Linked DNA regions of Homo sapiens. The protein of the gene in region 1 interacts with the protein of each later gene in a pairwise test. Each region holds a gene or a part of one and is shown in the gene's direction. Other genes may lie near its edges.

The links.
Region 2: the proteins of ZGPAT (region 1) and TCF19 interact in binary tests that used the Homo sapiens proteins (3 or more experiments, as listed by UniProt).
Region 3: the proteins of ZGPAT (region 1) and ZNF329 interact in binary tests that used the Homo sapiens proteins (3 or more experiments, as listed by UniProt).
Region 4: the proteins of ZGPAT (region 1) and MIPOL1 interact in binary tests that used the Homo sapiens proteins (3 or more experiments, as listed by UniProt).
Region 5: the proteins of ZGPAT (region 1) and ZNF426 interact in binary tests that used the Homo sapiens proteins (3 or more experiments, as listed by UniProt).
Region 6: the proteins of ZGPAT (region 1) and TRIM14 interact in binary tests that used the Homo sapiens proteins (3 or more experiments, as listed by UniProt).
Region 7: the proteins of ZGPAT (region 1) and CDCA7L interact in binary tests that used the Homo sapiens proteins (3 or more experiments, as listed by UniProt).

The regions. Positions count from the first base shown.
Region 1 is NC_000020.11:63,732,039-63,734,340, forward strand, and holds part of ZGPAT (zinc finger CCCH-type with G patch domain-containing protein), read left to right. Parts: intron 1-1,180; coding exon 1,181-1,314; intron 1,315-1,548; coding exon 1,549-1,701; intron 1,702-2,302. UniProt on the Homo sapiens protein: Transcription repressor that specifically binds the 5'-GGAG[GA]A[GA]A-3' consensus sequence. Represses transcription by recruiting the chromatin multiprotein complex NuRD to target promoters.
Region 2 is NC_000006.12:31,161,589-31,164,715, forward strand, and holds the end of TCF19 (transcription factor 19), read left to right. Parts: coding exon 1-417; intron 418-888; coding exon 889-1,129; 3' UTR 1,130-1,228; coding exon of another isoform or gene 1,229-1,238; 3' UTR 1,239-2,627; downstream 2,628-3,127. Other genes in the region: POU5F1 (POU domain, class 5, transcription factor 1), read right to left, coding at 3,013-3,127. UniProt on the Homo sapiens protein: Potential transcription factor that may play a role in the regulation of genes involved in cell cycle G1/S transition. May bind to regulatory elements of genes, including the promoter of the transcription factor FOXO1.
Region 3 is NC_000019.10:58,130,290-58,133,789, reverse strand, and holds part of ZNF329 (zinc finger protein 329), read left to right. Parts: intron 1-1,113; coding exon of another isoform or gene 1,114-1,151; intron 1,152-3,500. UniProt on the Homo sapiens protein: May be involved in transcriptional regulation.
Region 4 is NC_000014.9:37,267,437-37,270,936, forward strand, and holds part of MIPOL1 (mirror-image polydactyly gene 1 protein), read left to right. Parts: intron 1-1,221; coding exon 1,222-1,357; intron 1,358-2,983; coding exon 2,984-3,089; intron 3,090-3,500.
Region 5 is NC_000019.10:9,525,685-9,528,645, reverse strand, and holds part of ZNF426 (zinc finger protein 426), read left to right. Parts: coding exon 1-266; 3' UTR 267-2,961. UniProt on the Homo sapiens protein: May be involved in transcriptional regulation.
Region 6 is NC_000009.12:98,095,223-98,098,722, reverse strand, and holds part of TRIM14 (tripartite motif-containing protein 14), read left to right. Parts: intron 1-3,500.
Region 7 is NC_000007.14:21,918,400-21,921,899, reverse strand, and holds part of CDCA7L (cell division cycle-associated 7-like protein), read left to right. Parts: intron 1-3,500. UniProt on the Homo sapiens protein: Plays a role in transcriptional regulation as a repressor that inhibits monoamine oxidase A (MAOA) activity and gene expression by binding to the promoter.

The DNA.
Region 1 (2,302 bases):
TGCAAGTGTGAGTGTGTATATGCATGTGTGTATATGCATGCCATGTGTGTGCATGTATGTGTATATGCATATATGAGTGAGTGCACGTGACAGTCTACACGTGAGGGTGCATGTGTGTGCGCGTGTGGGTGACTGCATATGTGTGTGCATGTGTGGGTGCGGGTGCATCTGTGTGTGCATGTTTGGGTGCGGGTGCATGTGTGCGTGCACGTGTGTGTGGATGAGAGGTCGCATGTGTGTGGGTGAGGGCGTGTGTGTGTGCATGTGTGTGGGTGAGGGGGCATGTGTGTGCACGTGTGTGGGTGAGGTGTGTGTGTGCATGTGTCAGGGTGTGTGTGCGCGCATGTGTGTGGGTGAGGGCCTGTGTGTGCGTGTGTGTGGGTGAGAGATGTGTGCGCATGTGTGTAGGTAAGGGTGCTTGTGTGCGCATGTGTGTGGGTGAGGGCGTATGTGTGTGGGTGAGGGCACGTGTGCGCGCGTGTGGGTGAGATGGCGTGTGCGTATATCCATGTATGACTGCATCTGTATTTGCATGAGTTCATGTGTGAGTGCATGTTTATACGCGTGTCAGGGTCTCTGTGTATGTGTATGACGTGTGAGTACATGTGTTAATGTGTGTGTACATGTGTATATGCCTGTGTGCATGTGTGTATGCATGTGTATACATGTGTACTTGTGTATGTGTATATGTGTATGTCTGTATATGTGTGTGTATGCCTGTGTACGTATGTATATGCGTGTGTGTATGCATGTGAGTGCATGTTTATGCGTGTGTATGTGTACTTGTGTGTGCCTGTGTGAGTGCATGTGTGTGTACATGTGTATATGCGCGTGTGCGTATGCGTGTATGTGTACGTGTGTATATGCATGTGTGTGTATATGCCTGCATGTATATGCACAAGTGTGTATATATGTGTATGTGTGAGTGTATGTGTGCATGTGTATCTGTATGTGCGTGTGTATATGTGCATGTGTGTATGTGTGCGTGAGTGTGTGCATGTGTGTGTGTATGTGTGCGTGTGTATGTGTGTGCGTGAGTGTGTGAGAGTGTGTATGTATACGCACGCGTGTGTGTCTGTCTCCCTCAGGACAGTGCCCAGGCGGATGGGTCAGTGCTCCTGGGTTGGTTTGCCCCTGGTGGCCCATGTCTGAGCCCTGCCCCTTACGGCTCTGTCTGCAGGTTCTCCCATGGGCAGGTGGTCTCTCTGGATGAGCTGCGCCCCTTCCAGGACCCAGACCTGAGCTCCCTGCAGGCCGGCTCTGCGTGTCTGGCCAAGCACCAGGATGGCCTCTGGCACGCAGCACGCATCACCGGTGAGGCTGGCCGTGGGGGCCTCCCGGGAACACCCTCCCAGGCCCCACGTGTGTTGTCACTGTGTGGCTGCTCCCTGCTTCCTTTGGGTTGAGTGTCGGGACTCTGGCTCTGGGCCCGAAATGAGCACACCTACCCTCAGCCTCTGCCCTGCCTTGCTCCTCATGTCCAGGGTGGTTCCCTTCAGTGGCACCTGCTGTCAAGGATTCTGACCTGCAGCTTGTCTCTGCCCCCAGATGTGGACAACGGCTACTACACAGTCAAGTTTGACTCGCTGCTGCTGAGGGAGGCCGTGGTGGAGGGGGACGGCATCCTGCCCCCACTGCGCACAGAGGCCACAGAGTCCGACTCAGACAGCGACGGTACGGGTGACTCCAGCTATGCCAGAGGTATGGCAGCAGCTGCGGAGCCCAGGAGCCAGGAAGGTGGGGTCACCCTGAGAGGCTCCTGGCCGGTGAGGGCACCAACCATCTAACCAAACTATTGGAGAGTGTGTGACTGCGGCGAGGGTGCCACCTGTGCCTGAGGAGGCCGTGTGGGTAGGGGTAGATCCGTGGCGGCCTTTATCTTCAAGGAGTGTGGGTGCAACAGCTACAGTCTCATTGATGGGAGGCCATGGTCGTGGCTGTGGCCATGGGAGAGGAGGGGCCTGGAGTTGCCGAGGAAGTCACAGAAAATGACCAACTGATGGGGCCTGGAGTGCAGGAGGGGCAGCTCCTCTGCATGGCTTCTCAGACTTGGGACCTGGGTGCCTGGGATCCTGGCAGACAGAGGTTGTGTCCAGACAGCCAGCATGGAAGTTTCGGGAATGGGAACTGGTGGGCAGTGTCCAGCTCTCCAGAGGGGTGTGTGTATGCGTGTGCGTGTGTGTGTATATATGTGGGAGGTCACCTGACCCAAGCATGGCGGGCTGAGTCCAGGAGGGGTCTGCATGTTGGAGGTGTACCCAGGGATCAGTGATGGTGGTTTCTGAAGCCCCATGTCCCTGGT
Region 2 (3,127 bases), on another chromosome or scaffold:
GCCTCAGGACTTTGCTGCCATTACCATCCCACGGTCTAGGGGAGAAGCCCGGGTTGGGGCTGGTTTCCGGCCTATGCTGCCCTCCCAGGGGGCTCCACAGCGGCCTCTCAGCACCTTCTCCCCTGCCCCCAAGGCCACACTGATCCTAAACTCCATAGGCAGCCTCAGCAAGCTCCGGCCCCAGCCCCTCACCTTCTCCCCTAGTTGGGGTGGACCAAAGAGCCTGCCTGTTCCCGCCCCACCTGGGGAAATGGGGACCACGCCTTCTGCTCCACCACAACGCAATCGGAGGAAATCTGTTCACCGAGTGTTGGCGGAACTGGATGATGAGAGTGAGCCTCCTGAGAACCCGCCACCGGTCCTTATGGAGCCCAGGAAGAAACTCCGTGTAGACAAAGCCCCACTGACTCCCACTGGGTAAGTGGAGTCCTCACTTGGCCCTCTCAGTGTTTTACTGCTTTTCGATTCCTTGTATCCCTAGGCTGTGAGGAGGTCCCCCTGCCTGGGGGGATGGGCACGGGAGGTGGAATAGATGGAATGGCAAGACCTGGGTTAGCTCTGATAGGAAAAGAAAAATATGTGCAGGAGAACATGAGAGGTGGGGTGGGGCAGTGCTTATAAAACAACCGGAGTGAGCATGTCCTGCTTTTTACATTCATATGGCTTTAACCCCATTCTTCTAGTGCCTAAGGATGGGGAACTTTCAGGCTCATACTAGAGGTTTTTAGGCCCACCCTATGTGTTTTTAAGGACAGAGTCCAGGCTCACCTTAGTTCTCAGACCACTGTGCCTCTGTGGCCTCACCCTATGACCAGCCATAGGGTGGCAAGGTCTAGGCCTTCTCCTACAGGTTTCCGGTGACCCTTGTGTCTGTGTCACTTCCTTCAGAAATCGACGTGGCCGTCCTCGGAAGTACCCAGTGAGCGCTCCCATGGCTCCCCCTGCAGTTGGGGGCGGGGAGCCCTGTGCAGCTCCTTGTTGCTGCCTGCCCCAGGAAGAGACAGTGGCCTGGGTTCAGTGTGATGGCTGTGACGTCTGGTTCCATGTGGCCTGTGTTGGCTGCAGCATCCAGGCTGCCAGGGAGGCCGACTTCCGATGCCCAGGGTGCCGGGCTGGCATTCAGACCTAAGGTCCACTGCCAAGGCACCATCGGACACACCTGCCCATGAGTAGACACAGCAGCGAGCAAATAGGTCTGATAAATACCCCCCTTCCCTTCCCTCCCCAGGAGGGAATGACTACAGGGAAGAAGGATGGATTGATGTGGACTCATTCAGGGCCTGGAGCAGACCCTGGTGGCCAAGACAGAAGAGATGGTTTCCTGCCAAAGATATTGCCACCTCCAGGAAATTGCCAGTGAGCTGGAAGTTCCCACTATTACAAGCCATAAGGCCATGTTGCCATGGACACCAGAATATCTGTAGTCAGAGCACCTATCAGTTGCAAAAGCCATGCCTGCAACCGATGGAAAATGTAAGAGGGAGTTCTTAAGGTTCTTGGTGGCATCACCCAAGGCATTCTGGGAAAACCTAGGGCCTGGCCCCAAAACTTCCCTACTCTGTGGCTAGTCCTGCTGCCAACAAAATCGTAGCGACCTGGCTTTTCACAGCTTTGCTTTTATTTCCAAGTCAAGGACAAGCCGCTTCATTCACTCCTGGGCATTTACTCTTCTTGTGGGTCTGTGATATTCCTTGCTTTCCAGGGAGAATGTGCTTGGCAAGGTCTGGAGAACTAATTCAGAATCTTAGGGGAAGGGGAGAGATGGAAATACAAACCTGCTTACTGGAAAGGTGCAAATATATGGGTTGAGCTGGAGGTAGGAATACAGGTAATTAAGGTTTCTAGTTTAAGGGAAAACAGATCTATTGCCATTTAAATAAGGTAACTGGGATTTGGTTAAGTTCACAAAGATAGCAGAAGATTTATTTACAGGCTTCACCTGTACTGTCAGGGCAAGAGAAAGCCTGGTAAACCAGCTACAGCAGTTTACCAGTGTGATGGCTGTGACACAGCTCCACTCCACGGGTGGACACAGCAGAGGGCAACTGGGCTGGCCTGGTTCAGTGTGAATCAAACCGCTTAACCCACACATGGTACATGTGATTTTCTTTTGTGAGCCTTACACCAAGCCAAACTATTGTCAAAGCATCATTTCTATAGAAATAAAGCCTTATCTTGACCTGTTCTATTAAAACCTGCCACACCCGCCCTTTCCTACCTAGATTTAATGAGCCCAAGTTTTTAAAATGGAAGAAATGACTCTGGGGCAAAGACCCCTAATGAACTAGTGGCAGAGCCAGGAATAAAACTTGAGTAACTAATGAGTCACTTATGGGCAGAGTATGCAAAAACCTTAAGTGGAAACCAAATAGACCCTGGTATCAAGAAAGCACAAAGTATTAATAGAAGTTTCTGGTTGGGGTGATCTAGGTTCAACAGAAATAAGATGATTTCTAAGTATAAAGCCATTTAAGAATTCCAGAGTAGGGTGGGAAAGCAAAAAGCCAGCTCTGAACAGGTAACAGCTACATGGTGACTGAGTCTATGGGCAAAAGTTCTTGCATCACAGGCTTTTGGGAACTAGCCTATCACAGGGCCCTGTACAAATAAACTTGGCTGCAATCCCAGCTCTCCCTCTGATGTTGTGTGACCTTAAGGAGTGTAAATGGCACCTTAGTTTCAGGGTCACTTGGGTATGAGCATTGGATATTCCCATCCCTACCTCAGTAACTGAAGGACAAACCAAGATAAGTGTGTCTATCTACTGTGTCCCAGGCTTCTTTATTTAAGAAAAAAGTGATACATGATGTGGGATTAAAATCAAGAGCATCATTGAACTTCACCTTCCCTCCAACCAGTTGCCCCAAACTCCCCTGCCCCCACCCTTTGTGTTCCCAATTCCTTCCTTAGTGAATGAAGAACTTAATCCCAAAAACCCTGGCACAAACTCCAGGTTTTCTTTCCCTAGCTCCTCCCCTCCCCCTGTCCCCCATTCCTAGAAGGGCAGGCACCTCAGTTTGAATGCATGGGAGAGCCCAGAGTGGTGACGGAGACAGGGGGAAAGGCTTCCCCCTCAGGGAAAGGGACCGAGGAGTACAGTGCAGTGAAGTGAGGGCTCCCATAGCCT
Region 3 (3,500 bases), on another chromosome or scaffold:
TGGGCTCAAGTGATCCCCCCACCTCGACCTCCCAAAGTGCTGGGATTACAGGTGTGAGTCACCACACCTAGCCCACATTCATCATATTCATCAATTCCTTTGTTTTTCCTTCCTTCGTTCTTGGGGTTTTTTTGAAGAACAACATTTTCTAATTCCTCTGGCTAGTATCCTTGGAAATGAACTCTGCTTTTGCTTTTCTGAATTTTTTTTTTTTTTGAGACAGTCTCACTGTTGTCCAGGCTGGAGTGAATCATAGCTCACCGCAGCCTCAACCCCTGGAGCTCAAGCAATTCTCCTACTTCAGCTTCCCAAGTAGTTGGGACTAACAGGCGCATGCCACCACACCCTGCTAATTTTTGTATCTTTTGTAGGGACGGGGTTTCACCATGTTGCCCAGACTGGTCTCAGACTCTTGGGCTCAAGTGACCCATCCACCTTGGCCTACCAAAGTGTTGAGAGTACAGGTATGAGCCACCACATCCAGCCTCTGAAACAGTCTTTATCTCACCTTTGCTCTTGAACAATAGTGTGACTGATAGATTTTTTCCTTCAGTGCTTTGAAAGTAGCCTTCCGTTACCTTTGGGTTTCCAGTTTTTCTATTAAGTGATCTATTGTAATAATTTTCGTCATTCACTGGTGGTTTCTCTTCTCTCTGCTGGCCTTTAAGACCATCTATTGGCCAGGCGCGGTGGCTCACGCCTGTAATCCCAGCACTCTGGGAGGCTGAGGCGGGCGGATCACGAGGTCAGGAGCTCGAGACCATCCTGGCTAACATAGTGAAACCCTGTCTCTACTAAAAGTACAAAAAATTAGCTGGGCGTGGTGGCAGACACCTGTAGTCCCAGCTACTGGGGAGGCTGAGGCAGGAGAATGGCGTGAACCTGGGAGGCGGAGCTTGCTGTGAGCTGAGATCGCACCACTGCACTCCAGCCTGGGTGACAGTGCAAGACTCTGTCTCAAAAAAAAAGAAAAAAGAAAAAGACCATCTATCTACGTAGGTATGGATTGATGTTCGTTTATCCAGCTTTCTGACTCTGAGATACCTACCAGTGGAACTGCTGGGTGGTAGAATATACCTAATTTATGTTTTCTTTTTTTTTTTTTTTTTTCAGACGGAGTCTCGCTCTGTCCCCCAGGCTGGAGTGCAATGGTATAATCTTGTCTCACTGCAACCTCTGCCTCCTAGGCTCAAGCGATTCTCCTACCTCAGCCTCCCGAGTAGCTGGGATTACATGCATGCGCCACCGCGTCCAGCTAATTTTTGTATTTTTAGTAGAGACATAGTTGCCCAGGCTGGTCTTGAACTCCTGACCTTAGGTGATCCACCTGCCTCAGCCTCCCAAAGTGCTGGGATTACAGGCGTGAGCCACTGTGCCTGGCTTAATTTTTGTATTTTTAGTGGAGGTGGGGTTTCACCATGTTAGTCAGGCTGGTCTCGAACTCCTGAGCTCAGGTGATCCACCCACCTCAGCCTCCCAAACTGCTGGAATTATAGGCGTGAGCCACCGCGCCTGCCCCCAGTTTATGTTTTCACAGCTGCCACTAAGGTACCCTGCCAAGCACGCTGACCACTTTCCAAGCCCTCTTCCCTTGTGACCTACCAAAGCTTTATATTATTGTACTTCATTTTATTTTTACTCACGTGAAATGTGTATATTTTGTGTTCTTAAAGTCGCAGTTTGGAATTGCCTGAATGATAGAATGAGAAAATAAATATTGATGTTTTCAGGACATTTCTTTTTTTTCTTTCTTTTTTTTTTTTTTTTGAGGCAGAGTCTCGCCCTGTTGCCCAGGCTGGAGTGCAGTGGCGCTATCGCGGCTCACTGCAAGCTCTGCCTCCCGGGTTCATGCCATTCTCCTGCCTCAGCCTCCCAAGTAGCTGGGACTACAGGCGCCCGCCACCACGCCTGGCTAATTTTTTGTATTTTTAATAGAGACGGGGTTTCACCGTGTCAGCCAGGATGGTCTCGATCTCCTGACCTTGTGGTCCACCTGCCTCAGCCTCCCAAAGTGCTGGGATTACAGGCGTGACCCACTGCTCCCAGCCAATGTTTTCAGGACATTTCTATTTTCCCTTCACGAAGTGCTCTTTGATTACTTTGCCCATTTTTTTTCTTTTTATGTGCTGTTCTGTAAGAATCCTCTGTAGTTCTTGGGCAGTAATTCTTTGTGCTTTTAAATCTTATTTTCTCTCTGTAAGAATCCTCTATAGCTCTTGGGCAATAATTCTTTGTGCTTTTAAGTCCTATTTTCTCCCTATCTGCCACTTGCATTTTGTCTCTTATTGTGTCTTTTATTGGATGGAAAATTTGAATGCTGATATCAGACTTCTTAATCCTTGTCTGTTTTTTATTTTTTGGTTTTTGTTTTTTGTTTTTAAGACATGGTCTCTTTTGCCCAATCTGGAATGCAGTGGCACAATTACAGCTCACTGCAGCCTCAGCCTTCTGTGTGGGCTCAAGTGATAACTCCCACTTCAGCCTCCCAGAGTGCTGGGATTACAGGCATGACCCCCAATGCTTGGCCATATGGTTTTTTGGTTAAGTTTTGTTGATCAAAGTCTGCCACACTTATGAAGGCATACTACATTATTTAAACTTTGACTTTATGTTGCAGCCTGTATCCTTCTGAAATGTAAATACACGCGCACACACACACACACACACACATATACACATATACATGTATATATATTTAAATTGCCTAGAATGTAGACATATATGTATGTATGTATTCTGAGGCAAGGGTCTATTTTCATTTTACCTTAAAAAATAGAAAGAAGGCTGGGCACAATGGCTCATCCCTGTATTTGCAGCATTTTGGGAGGCTGAGGTGGGATAATTGCTTGAAGTTTTTGAGATTGAGGCTTCAGTGAACCAAGATCACACCACTGCACTTCAGCCTGAATGACAGAGCGAGACCCGATCCCACCAAATGAATGAACGAATGAATGGACAACCAGTTGTCTTAATATTGTGAAGTCTGAATGGACAAGGATGGTGACAGGAAGATTGATATGCATGAAGACACATGCAACCATTTACAGAATGCCCTTCATCCCCTAGCCTTGGAGACTGCTTTGTACATGATCCAGTTTTTTTTTTTTTTTTTTTTTGAGACGGAGTCTTGCTCTGTGGCCCAGGCTGGAGTGCAGTGGCACGATCTTGGCTCACTGCAAGCTCCGCCTCCCGGGTTCGCGCCATTCTCCTGCCTCAGCCTCCCGAGTAGCTGGGACTACAGGCGCCCGCCACCACGCCTGGCTAATTGTTTGTATTTTTTTAGTAGAGACGGGGTTTCACCACGTTAGCCAGGATGGTCTCAATCTCCTGACCTTGTGATCTGCCCACCTCGGCCTCCCAAAGTGCTGGGATTACAGGCGTGACCACCGCGCCTGGCCGACATGATCCAGTTTTTATAACAACCATGCAGGGCAGTCTTTGACAGTTTTTGTTTTGTTTTGTTTTTTGAGATGGAGTCTCACTCTGCCGCGTAGGCTGGA
Region 4 (3,500 bases), on another chromosome or scaffold:
GAGATTGTGCCACTGTACTCCAGCCTAGGCAACAGAGCAAGATTGTCTGAAGAAAAAAAAAAAAAGAGAAAGTTAGAATTGGAAGAACTTTTTCTCCCTCCCTTCTTCCCTTTCTTCCTCTTTCCTTCTTTCTTTTTGGTGTTGGCTAATTCTAAACTTATTAGAACTTGGCGAATCTACCAGGGTTTTCTACTGTTTCCATGGTATGGATATAATATGTCTAGTTAACTAAGTGAAAAAGCACAAAGTGCATCTGAAGAAAGACAGGTTTAATTCTATTTTATTCAATATTATTTTCTGTGACCTTTCTTTATGTATTTGGAAATAACTGTTAAATTGATATACATGACATATCATTCATGAAAGTAAAAAACTGGCAGCTCCAGGACAAGGTAAGCCCAAACATGCATTTTGGTTTGGGTTAGCGCTATTTTTCATTTAAATGAATTTGATGCTTTTAAAAGGGCCTTGTTCTCTACCATTTGCATTCCTCATTATTTTACTTTCTCAGCTTTTACCCAGTAACCTTGCCTACCTAGCTCATGAAAGGATTTGAATTTGTGATACCTGATACTTCTACCCATGAGATTAAGGAACTTTGATAATTAGTCATGTGCTAGAAAAATATTATTAGATTTAAAAAGAAGTTTCAGTGACTAATATATTTTCAGTCTAGACAAAATAATATTTTGCAGCATACTATTTTTAACAGATTTTTGCATAGGAACTTTTATTCTACTTTCAAATTATTCAGTAGATATGTTAATAGATAGTAACATATAATGAAATAGATGTATTGATATGTTCCCATCCCTTTTTCAGATTCTTACTAAGGTGTAGGTTGGAGTCCCTTTTGAGGAGTAGAAGCACAGAAGAATGAAGTAGGGATAAACATTTTATAACCACATGGGTAAAGTAAATAGTAGAGATTGGGCTAAAGTCAGATTATGAGATATCTAGCATAATTACAACAGGAGATGTACGTGGTAAATAGAGCTGCACTGACTGTCCCAGCCGTCACTAAATTTCTTCTTAGTGACTCCAAAATTTACCTGTGCTTACAAATTTAATATAAGGCCTTCAAAAAAACAGCCCATCTCTTTTCCTTTCCCTTCCTTTATGGTGTTTGCTTACAAGTTGATACTGTTCTCAAGTAGCATACAAAATGTCAAAAAATTAGTTTATCTTACTCTGAAATGTTAATCAGTTTCTTTATTACAGCGTTATGGAACATAGACATAATGATATGCATTATGAATGTATGACTCCTTGTCAAGTTACTTCAGACTCAGATAAAGAGAAGACAATAGCATTTCTTCTAAAAGAATTGGATATTCTCAGAACAAGCAATAAAAAGGTATAATATGGAAAGTCTGATAATTGTATAGTATGGGTTTAGCTGTTGATCTTCTAAATTTCCTTTGTTGCCCATCATAATTCAGTTTTATTTTGCACTTTAATCATTTAACAGTAGCTTTATGTTTTTGCCATACCTTGCCATCAGGGTATGGTTGAGTTAAGGGGTTGAAAATGAAAGCATTTTTTTGATTTCATACCTTGCTGGTCCACATTAGCACTTCCTTTTTCATAAGCCCCTGGTTCCTTGTATACATATCTTTAAAAAAAAAGATTCAAGTTTTAGTAAAACTCTGCTTCAGTATTATAGAGAATGGGAGATAGAATGCACTGGTTTCATGTTACTATCTTAATTTTTTTTTCTTTATTAGTATCCATGCCCTATATTTGACCTCAATAATACATGTAATTAAACATTTCAGTAGCAAGGCTTGGCAATATTGTCATTTACCTTGTGTTAATCTTATACTGCTGCATTTTGTCCAGTCCAATTTGTCACGTTATGTTTTATCTTCTGTTCTGACTCTTATTCTAGTTATAGTCATGTGATCATTAAATAATTTTATTAAATAATGTGCATTTTCTGTGTCTTCTTTTTTTTTTAACCTCTACATACTGCTCTGATTTTAATATTCTAGTTGTGTAACCTAATCAAACTGAAGCATGATGTTAGGAATGTTGATCATGTTTGGAGGAAAACAACTAAAATGACAAAAACCTAGGGAGGAATTAAAAAAACATGTGGAGGGATTCTGTATGAGATGTTTTCTGTACTTTCATTTAGCAGTTATTTATTACATGCCACTTATGAGTCAGGTGTCAGTGTCAATTTAAATGGAATATGATGGGGTAGTATTCTCAAAGGGAGATTTGTATCAGATATTAAGATTATTGTCTTAATTTTGTTTCAGAATATTGGATTTACTAAGATAAACTGTAAAGCAGTGCTATCTGTTATTTTATTAGGCAAATCCCTTCCAAATATTTTGCATTAAGAAAAAAGGATGAATGAGACTGCTTTTGCAGTAGTCATTATTATTATTATTTTTTTTGAGATGGAGTTTCACTCTTGTTGCCCAGGCTGGAGTTCAATGGCGCGATCTCAGCCCACTGCAATCTCCGCCTCCTGGGTTCAAGCAATTCTCCTGCCTCAGCCTCTCGAGTAGCTGGGATTACAGGTGCCCGCCACCACACCTAGCTAATTTTTTGTATTTTTAGTAGAGACGGGGTTTCATCATGTTGGCCAGGCTGGTCTCAAACTCCTGACCTCAGGTGATCTGCCCACCTCGGCCTCCCAAAGGGCTGGGATTACAGGCGTGAGCAACCACATCTGAACTGCAGTAGTTATTTTTAAGAATAATGTTGGTCCTCTGAATTTAATTTGCCTGTTCATGCACATATACACATAAATTAAGTGTATATTGGGATGTTTTTACAATTTCTGTATAACTACAGGTAATTATTACTTTATAAATAACTTAAATTTTAAATTTTTTTCTGGAGTTATCTATCTAGGAAGTTAAATATAATATAAGAATTAAGAAAAAACCAAAAACTTTGAAATTAATTATATTTTTGCAAGACATTTGTCAAATAAGAATCCATGATTTTTTTCAATGTGCTTTAGCTTCAGCAGAAATTGGCTAAAGAAGATAAAGAACAGAGAAAACTAAAGTTTAAGCTGGAACTCCAAGAGAAAGAAACAGAAGCTAAAATTGCTGAAAAGACAGCAGGTATAGTAGAGGAGTATTAACACATGGCTTGAAGAATCACACACAAGGTTATTATATGATGTATCTTGGTGAATACTAGCATACTGGCTTATTTGCCAAAGGAGGGGAAGCTCTCCTTTTTTTTTTTTTTTTTTTGGCTGCTTAGAAAATAGGTGGCTTTAACATCCTGGTACTGGTATTAGTGAGAGCTTTACCTGTATTCATACTGATTTGGGCATTAAATGCATTGTTAACACCATGTCAATCCAATCACAAAAAGGTTGTTTGTTTTGTTGGAAGGGGCTGAACAAACAAGGGGAAATAATGATTACCAGTGCCTCTACCTTTCAACCAGCAGTTCAAATACCACTTATTGTTTTAGCTCGTTGAGAGGAAATACTTCTCCTTTGTATGAAGATAGTCACATATTCA
Region 5 (2,961 bases), on another chromosome or scaffold:
TGCGAATCCACACTGGAGAAAAACCCTATGAGTGTAAACAATGTGGAAAGGCCTTCAGTCATTCCAGTTCATTTCAAATACATGAAAGGACTCACACTGGAGAGAAACCCTATGAATGCAAGGAGTGTGGGAAAGCCTTCACGTGTTCCAGTTCCTTTAGAATTCATGAAAAAACTCACACAGAAGAGAAACCCTATAAATGTCAGCAATGCGGGAAAGCTTACAGTCATCCCCGTTCACTTCGAAGACATGAACAAATTCACTAGTGAGAAACTGTCCATGTAATAAATGTGGGAAAGCTCTCATTTGTTCCAGTTCACTTTAAAGACATGAATGAACTCACTCTGGAGAGAAGAAGCTGCATGAAAATTACTTAATTCCTGTAATCCCAGCATTTTGAGAGGCTGAGGTGGGTGGATCACTTGAGGTCAGGAGTTTGAGACCACCCTGGCCAACATGGTGAAACCTTGTCTCTACTGAAAATACAAAAAATTTAGCCAGGTGTGGTGGGCACCTGTAATCCCAGCTACTTGGGAGGCTGAGGCAAGTGAATCACTTGAACCCAGGAAGCAGAGGTTGCAGTGAGCAGAGATCATGCCACTGCACTCCAGCCTGGGCGATGGAGTGAGACTCCATCTCAAAAAAAAAAAAAAAAGAAAATTATTTGATTAAATTGAGTCTGTTAGAGTACATCCCTAATCCAATATGATTGGTGTCCCTATAAGAAGAGAAAGACACAACTGAGACAACAAATAGAAGATGATGTGAAGTCATCAGATGATGGCCATCTGCAAGCCAAAGACAGAGCACTGGGACAGATCCTTCTATCAAAGCCACCAACCCTGCTGGCACCTTCATCTTGGGCTTCCAGAACTTTGAACAAATAAAATTCTCTTGTTTGAGCCACCCAGTCTGTGGTATTTTGTTGTGGTGGCTCTAGCAAGTGAATACAGTAAGCAATAAGCAAAAACGTTTATAGATTGTCCAAAAGCCTTAATATTCACATGCAAAGCCACACTGGAGAGAAACTATATGAATGTAAGACGTGGGAGAGCCTTCATTGAGTCTTCAGTCCTTTCTACATACAGGAGAAATCACATAGGAGAGAAATTGTATGAATGTAAGGAGCATGAAAAAGCCTGTGAATGTTCACTATATTTTAATATTCACATGCAAGTTGTCTGGTCGTAGACCATGTGAAAATAGAGGAGAAAAAAGGAAAGAAAGTTTCTTTTACTGTGAACGCAAGGAATGTGACCCCATACACCATACTGGAACTTGGAGTGGACTGAAATCCCATTAGGATTGTGGAAAAGCTTACATTAATGTTTTCTACCTTCTAGAAGGTGTAAGAAGTCGAACTGGAGAGAAGCCTTTTACCTGTAATGCATGTAGGAAGCCTTACATTAATTCCACAGAATTTTTTTTACACATGTAAAATTACCTCAGAACCCTGGGAAGGTAAGGAATATGGTATAACCTTTAAATATTTCACATGCCATAATAAGTACATGAATTCTGATAATACTGTACCGTTTCTTGAGTAGTGTTAGTACCTTATACTATCAAAATAATCCTAAATCCTCCCTCTCAGACCTTCCATCATTACTATATTTCACTTTTATGCCTATAAACACACACAAATTAGCATATGTAATCTAATACATTGTAGCTATTTTTCAGAAGTTATCAGATCAATTAAGTATTAGAAAAATAAACATTTTTATTTTACCTTCACTTCTTCCTTCTATGCTCAAAGTTGGATGTAATTCTTATACTTGATCCTCAATACTTAAAGCATTTCCCCCCCTCTGGCTTCTATGAAAATTTTTTGTTATCTTTGATATTCTGTTATTTTTAAATGATATGCCTAGGTATAGGTTTTTGGTGCTCGTCCTTCTTGGTGTTTGCTTAGCCTCCTGGATTTGCGTTTTGGTGTCTGAGTTAATTTTGAGAAATTCTGTCATTGTTTCCCTTTTTTTTTCTTTCCATCTGGTATTTCCTTTATATGTAGGATACATCTTTTGTAGTTATCCCACAGTTCTTATATCTTGTTTTTTTATTCTTCTCTTTGCTTTTCAGGTGTGGATGTTTCTGCTGATATATTCTCAAGCTCTTTAGTTGGCTGTTTCTTGGCCAATAATAAGCCTACCAAAGACATTCTTCATTTCTGTTACACTGTCTTCAATTTCTAGCATTTCTTTGTGGTTCTTAGAATTTCCATCTCTGTGTTTACACTGCCTGTCTGTTCTTGGATGCTGTCTGCTTTATCCAGTAGAACCCATGGCATATCAATCATAATTGTTTTAAATTCCCAGTCTGATAATTTCAGCAATCCTGCTATATCTGGTTCTGGTTCTTACTCTTTCTCTTTAAACTAACTTTTGCCTTTTAGTATGCTTGTAATTTTTCCTTAGCTGGACATGGCATACTGGATAAGAGGAAATGCTGTAAGCAGGCCTCTAGTAATCATGATAAGCTGTGGGGAGAGGGGCAGCATTCTATTGTCCAGGGATTAGATGTCAGTCTTGCAGTGAGTCTGTGCTTCTGCACTGTGAACTTCAGTTTTTCCCACCCTTTAGTTGGGTCAGGATGTATAGAGTTGGCTGGAGTTGGATATTTCCCTTCCTCCAGGTCACTGAAGCTCTGACTAAAACTCCAGGTGTGGTGGCTTATGCCTGTAATACCAGCACTTTGGGAGGCCAAGGCAGGTGGATCACCTGAGGTTGGGAGTTCATGACCAGCCTGAATTGCTTGAATCCAGGAGGTGGAGGTCACAGTGAGCCGAGATTGTGATACTGCACTCCAGCCTGGGAAACAGTGAGACACTGTCTCAAAAAAATAAATAAATAAATAAAAGGCTAGGCGCAGTGGCTCAACCCTGTAATCCCAGCACTTTGGGAGGCAGAGGTGGGTGGATCATGAGGTCAGGAGATCGAGACCATCCTGGCCAACATGGTG
Region 6 (3,500 bases), on another chromosome or scaffold:
TACTTTTTTCTTTTTTTTTGAGACGGAGTCTTGCTCTGTCGCCCAGGCTGGAGTGCAGTGGTGTGATCTCGGCTTACAGCAAGCTCCACCTCCCACCATTCTCCTGCCTCAGCCTCCCGAGTAGCTGGGACTACAGGCGCCCCCCACCACGCCCAGCTAATTTTTTGTATTTTTTAGTAGAGATGGGGTTTCACCATGTTAGCCAGGATGGTCTCCATCTCCTGACCTCGTGATCCGCCCCCCTCGGCCCCTCAAAGTGCTGGGATTACAGGCGTGAGCCACCGCACCCGGCCGATGGTGTTCCTGTCTTTAGGGAACCGTGGAAGAAACTGTTGTCTGGTGTCAATATCCCTGTGCAGTCACTTCTGCACTAGAATTGCTTTTCCACTAATAGAGCTCCTCCTGTTTCCTTCTTTGCCTTGGGAAGTTCAGAGCCAAATCTGCTTTGACTAACCAGACTAAGGCTTCATGGCAAACACTTTGTGTCTAATTTTCTCTTAGCTTCATTTTTCTCGCTATAAAGAAAAATCTTGCCTTATTAGAGGACCTTCACAAGACACTTTAAAGGCTGTGGGACAAGGCAGGGTACAACTAAAAGTGGCACCAACTCTAACCACAGATTAGTATGGGCTCTGGCTGGAAAATAAGACAGACAAATAAGCCAGTCAACACAAAACCCGCCAAGCCAGTCTCCAGCTGGGGATTTCCACTCTTGTGTCTTTATGTGGCCTCAGTCGGTTCAGCCTGTGTCTCATTGTCAGCTGTTTGAGCCAAATTCTGGATGAAGTGTTTTCCTAGGCATAATGGGTGTTGTGCTTTAAGAGAGGCAAGATGCACAAAGTGTTACATGTAATTGTCTCTTTTTAAATAATGGTCGTTTTTAAGGCTATGGAATACAAAGGAATCCTTCCATGGAGAAGCATGCTATTCTCACATCAGAAAACGGTTTCAGGGCTTTGTCATCTTTTTTTTTCAAATTCTCTTGGGCCACAGCTAATGATTTTAATCATTCACCGTTCCCACCTTCTATGTGTTCATTCGTTTATTCATCAATATGTACTGAGCCAGGTCACTTGCTGGACATTAGGAGCTCACAGTTGGGTGGGGGACTTGCTCAGAAACAGTTATTTACAATACAGCTTAAACAATTTTGTAAATATGAAGCTAGCAAAATTATGTCCAAGAAATGTCTGACACTCTCTGGCTGGGAGAAGGATGCAGTCTGGGAAGACTTCTAGGAAGAGGTGATGGTAGGGTTGGGTGCTGGACAATGAGTAGGAGCACACTGTATATAGAGAGGACGCAGAGAGGACAGACAGGAACTGTGTACATGTGAGAGCTTGACAGGCTGGGGAACCAGCTGGGGTGCAGCCTGACTTGAGGAGAGGTGAGGGTATAAGGGTGGGGGGATTGAGAGACACAGCTGGATCCATAGGCCATAGTTAGTTCATGAAGGCCTTATGTGCCATGGAGTTCAGACTTTGTCCTGTAATGAGATAGGAGACAGGAATGTTTGTTTGTTTGTTTTTGAGACAGGGTCTCACTCTATTGCCCAGGCTAGAATGCAGTGGCTCAATCTCAGCTTACTGCAACCTTTGCCTCCCAGGTTCAAGGGATTCTCCTGCCTCAGCCCCTGGAAGAGCTGAGACGACAAGCACGTGCCACCATGCCCAGCTAATTTTTGTATTTTTAGTAGAGACAGTGTTTCACCATGTTGGCCAGGCTGGTCTCAAACTCTTGACCTCAAGTGATCTGCCCACCTTGGCCTCCCAAAGAGCTGGGAGGTGTGAGCCACTGCACCCAGCCCAGGGGAGTGTTTTGAACTGAGGGATGAAAGCATTCACATGGTCAGATTAGTGCTTTAGAAAAGTCACTTTAGAGATAGAGTGGAAGATGGACAGAGGAGGCCAGGATGGGAGGCTGGAAGAGAACTTGGGAGGAGGCCACAATGTCCAGGAGAGAGATGATGGTGGCCTGGACCAAGACAGGGGCAGTGGGGATGGGGAGAAACAGGCAGGTCAAGAGATGCCACAGGAATGGAGATTGGAATTGGAGAATGGGTAGGAGGAATCCCCAGATGATGCCTGGGTTTCTGGCCTGAGAGATGAAGGGCTGGGATTTCTGTTCTCTGAGTCTGCAAAGGCAAAAAAGTGGCTGTGCTCGGTTTCATGCATTGATTTATTCCATCATACATATGTTTTGAGAACCTGTGTGTCAGGTCTGGTGCTAGCTGCTGGAGTTTGGGGTTACCAGGTGGTGCCATGTGTCCTCTATCGACCCCTCATCCTACCCTACTCATCTGCCCTCTGAGCCCCCTCTCGCCTCCCCGGAGCTGCTCCCTGCCCACCCTGGACTTCCTGCTAGTGCTTGGTCTCCCCTGGCCAGCTCCATTCCAGCGCTCTGGGTGTGACCTTAGGCCTGGTTCCCCACCAAAATGAGGTTGGACTCTATAGACTCCTGGCCTCCTAGGCTGAATGGGGCTTGCAGGCCATCTCACAGCCCCCTCCCAATGTACAGCATGCTGCCAGGTGGGATCTGCCCCTGCCCAACAGCCAAGTGCTAGGCCACCCTCCCTCCCTCCTGAGGCCCTCATCTGTCCACCCCTTCTCGGGTGGGCAGCACTGCCACTGCCAGCCAAGCCTGATCACCTGAGGCAGTCATCTTCCTTCCAACTCCTGGCCAGGACAGAGCTTCAGAAAATGCAGCCATGGTTCTTACCTGCAAACATGAGAATCCACTGGAACTGTTTTAAGCAAGAAAGGAGTTTATGGAAGAGTATGAGATAGCCCATAGGATCTCCAGGAGGGCCAGAGAGTCGGGATGGAAGATGGGCAGCAGGAATGAAGTCCAGACTCCAGCAGGGGTTGGTGCCAGTATAGGCCCCACGGCACCCCTGCTGGGCAAGACATCACCACTCACACCACTGACCAGAGCCCCCACCACTGCTGTCCCTCAGTGCCACATGCCACCATCACTACCTTCACCGTCATTTCCAAATCCACGCTTTGGCTTGGAGGCGTCTGGTCACACTCCTGCAGCACAGGTGCAAAGGGAGCTGGGAGAGGGGGTTTTCTAGCTTCTCCTTAGTGAAGCCACATACCACAGGAAAGTATTGAAGAGGGGCTGTCCAGGTGCAAAACAGGACACATGTCCCCTGCGGTGGCCACACCCCCTCAGTCAGCACTGCAGCTGAACCTTGCTGGCCTTTGGCGTCCTTCTTAGAACATGGTTTCCTGCTCCACCTTTGAATAAGCTCCAGGTGCTCCTTCCCCAGGGAGACTGACCTCTCACCCTTTTTGTACCCAAGGCAGACCCGTGGCGCAGTGTGTGTGAGGCTGAAGCCTCTCTGGGAAGGGCCCCGTGTCAGCCTGACCCTGCCTTCTGCATGCATAGCTGGCACAGAGTAGGTTTCAATGAACACGTAAGGAAGGAAGGAAAGGAGGAAGGATGGAGAGGGAGGAATCCCCAGTGCCAGCACTGAAAAACCGCACCTCCGCATG
Region 7 (3,500 bases), on another chromosome or scaffold:
TAAAGACAGAGTAGACAAACAGAAACTGTACATGAAAGGAATAGCATGAAGTTGTCGATTTTTAACAAGTATTATAAATAATGAAACGGTCTTTTCACTTTCAGATGAGAATTTTCCCTTTTTTTTTTGGTTCACTAGATAGTAGTTATCCTAATTCAGAAGTTCAACTAATGTAAATATCCATTGATTGAGAAATTTTGTATTTTTGTTGTTTTCAGTTACTTGTTGTAGTTTTCTTTTTGGTGAGTCTTATGATTGGCTTTATTGTAATAGAATGGAACACAAACTTTGAAAAAAAAAAAAAAAGGTCTTGCATTTTTGTCTAGACTATGCAGCTACCCAGTGGATCGCTGCTGAATGGAACAGGAAAGTGACAGATCCTTGGGCCTAATGTATCACTGTGTTGTGGAACTGGTCATTCATTAGAAGAGGTCCCTGTGTATCCTTTCTATCAGGTCCTTCTCATATAAATCTTGCTGCCTTTGTTGCATCTGTTAGACAAATCAGTTCGTTGCATTGAGGACACTTGAATATTTTACAGTTTTTTTTTTTTTTTTGGCAAATCTTGAAGCTTGTGACTATCTGAAACTCTTTTAATACCTTTTGAAGGATCAGAGCCCTGCGTACCCCAGGAATGCACACCGTTTTTTTGAAAGTGTGCTCTTTCCTTTTGTTCCTAATCAGTAATTATAGCCCCCTAATGGTACCTCTGGAGCAGATGCAGAAGTCAAAGATGCAGAAGGAGGAATTAGCTAGTCAGACACAGGCTCGCAGCAGTGGTGGGGCTGAACACAATAGCACAGGGACTAATGCAGTTGCTGCTGGAAGCAGTTTATTCCTATCACCAACCCTCTCCATTCCTTGTATGTATTTCCATTAAATCCATAAATGGGGTGCTCCTCCTCCTTTAAACCATTTATGTTAAAAGAAGCTTCTGGGCCAGCAGGGCTGTTTGAATTTTGTAGAATGGTGAGAAGGCCAAAAGAAAAAGACTGAAATTGACACACTGTCCCTCTTAGTGCCTCTGCAGGGACTGAACTCAGTGGCTATTATGTAGCTACAACATAGGCACACTTTCATAAGTATTGTCTGTGTTTCTCTAGTCTGGGTGTTTTCCTTGCGTATTAGTTCTGAGTGCTAAACAACAACAAAAGGTGTCTTTGAAAAGATAAGGTGGCAAACATTGTTTAACATACCTCCTTGAGAAAAGTTTCAATATTTTCCCCAAGAATGATGTCAGAGTTAGGCTTTGCTAGTGCTGCACTACGTGTGGCTGGTAAAAAAATTGTTAGTGGAACTCTACTTCTGTAAGTGTTGTTCTTGTTTGTCCCTTGCAGTGATTTTATTAGATGGTGGGAAAGTGTTTGTATTAACCCTTCAGCATCACTGAACTTGGGGTATCCCATTTCTGTATTTATGTTACACTTCCTTTGATTGAACCATTATTTTCTAATTATTTTTAATCAAGAAGCATTAAAATAAGGATGAAAGTAAATAGATTAAGGATTACCAGTTTCCTAAATGGAACCTGACTAAATGTAAAATTAAGTCAACACACCCACACAGAGAATTCCACGAAGCTAAGTAGCTTTTGAATACACAACTCTGTATATGCTAGTGCAGTGGTCAAAGTGTGAGATGGAGGACCTGAGACCCTTTCACGGGTCCATGAGGGCGAATGTAATGTCATAATAATACTAAGATTATTTGCCCTTTTTGCTGTGTTGATATTTGCACTGATTGTGCAAAAGCCAAAGTGGAGAAAACTGCTGATCTTTAGCATGAATCCAGGTGGTAGCAACAAACTGTATTAGTAGTCATTGCATTCACCTCCATGCACTCAATTTAAAAAGAAAATGTCAGTTTCACATAAGAATGTTCTGATGAAACAGTAAAAATTATTAAGTCTCAACTGTTAAGGACATCTTTTTAATATACTGCATGATGAAATGGGAAGTACATGTGAAACATTTTTGCATAACCATGTACAATGATCATCTGGTTAGCTGAAGGAAAAGATCCTGTGTATAGTGAGACTATGTTCCAGGGCTAGAAAGAACTGCAAAGAAATCTTGAACTGCACTGTTTGTTGTTGGTAGTATATTGGTGGCGTCAGTTTGGCGCTATTTTGTGTTTATTGTAGATAGAGCACCACATGGATAAGTATATTAAAAATTTTGGGAATCGAGGGTTTTCCTTGTGGTGGAACGGCGATGCTAATGTGAGATGAGGGAGAGATGAGGGAGCAGAGGAAGAAGCCTCCGTGTTGGATTTGAATTCAGGGTGTCACCATGAACTTGTGATTTACCTATTTAAAATATCCTTGCTCTGTCCAAAGAGCCTACAAGCAGTGATACTTAATTAACCGAGATGCATTGTGTTCTCCGAGCTTGGTTTTTAAATGCCATTTCCCAGTGAAAGGTTTCAGGGCTCCTTGGAGAAATGGCTGATTTGAGGTCTGGGACAGGAAACATACAAGGTTAGCTTGCCATGCTTGTGTCAGAAAGCAAGGAGGTGTTGAAAGACCCTTAGTGCCATGTCAGAAAGACAGAGGATGACTTTCCAAGAAGCTCCCAATGGCCAAATTTGGGACAGTCAGCATTATGAGAGTATGGATTATAACACATTTAATAATAATTTTTAGAAATCCATGGATATACATGGTAGAAGAAAAGGGGGAGAGTGAGAGAAAGACTATATTATACAAGAATGCCAGCTACTTTGTGAAGGAGAGAGAAAATCTGAAAATTTCTCTTTTGCAGTCCCTAATGTAATAATTCATTCAAGGGTGCCCTGGCTCATGCCTGTAATCCCAGCACTTTGGGAGGCTGAGGTGAGAGGATCACTTGAGGCAAGGAATTTGAGACCAGCCTGGGTAACATAGACCCTGTCTTTATTAAAATAAAAAATATAAAAAAAAAGAATTGTCAATGGACGCTGAAACTGTTGAGCAAGATGTTATCAGGGAGGCTATTCACAGAATCTCAAGTCTCACTCTGCATATTCCTTATTAGTGACAAAGGAGAAAGGGTGTTTTTTGTTGTTGTTATTGTTTTTTGTTTTGTTTTGTTTTAAAAGCGAAGAACAAATCAGGCTGATTCCACCTTAACTTATTGACCAAACAGCAACATCACTAAAAAAAGAGACAGCCAGACCTTATGTGCTTTCCAAAGGAAGAACATAGCACTTCCTAAAAAGTAGTCTTGGCAAAAGCAAGCCAACTAGAAGTAAAGCCTCCGGATTCAACTCCCAAATTGTAAACCCAAATGAGTCTGTTAAACACCACCTTGGGGATGCAAAAAAAATAAAACTTCAGACTTGGACAGACTCCACAGTCAAGTGACCCAGCTTCTTCAAAAATAAACTGCAAGAGAAAAGAGATAAAGGAGTGATGAGAAGGGATTTAAGAGCCATGTTGATCAGTGTGAACCTTATTTGGATCATGATGCAGATAAACTAAGTTTTTAAAAAATGAGGCAGAAGAACTGTGAATACAGACT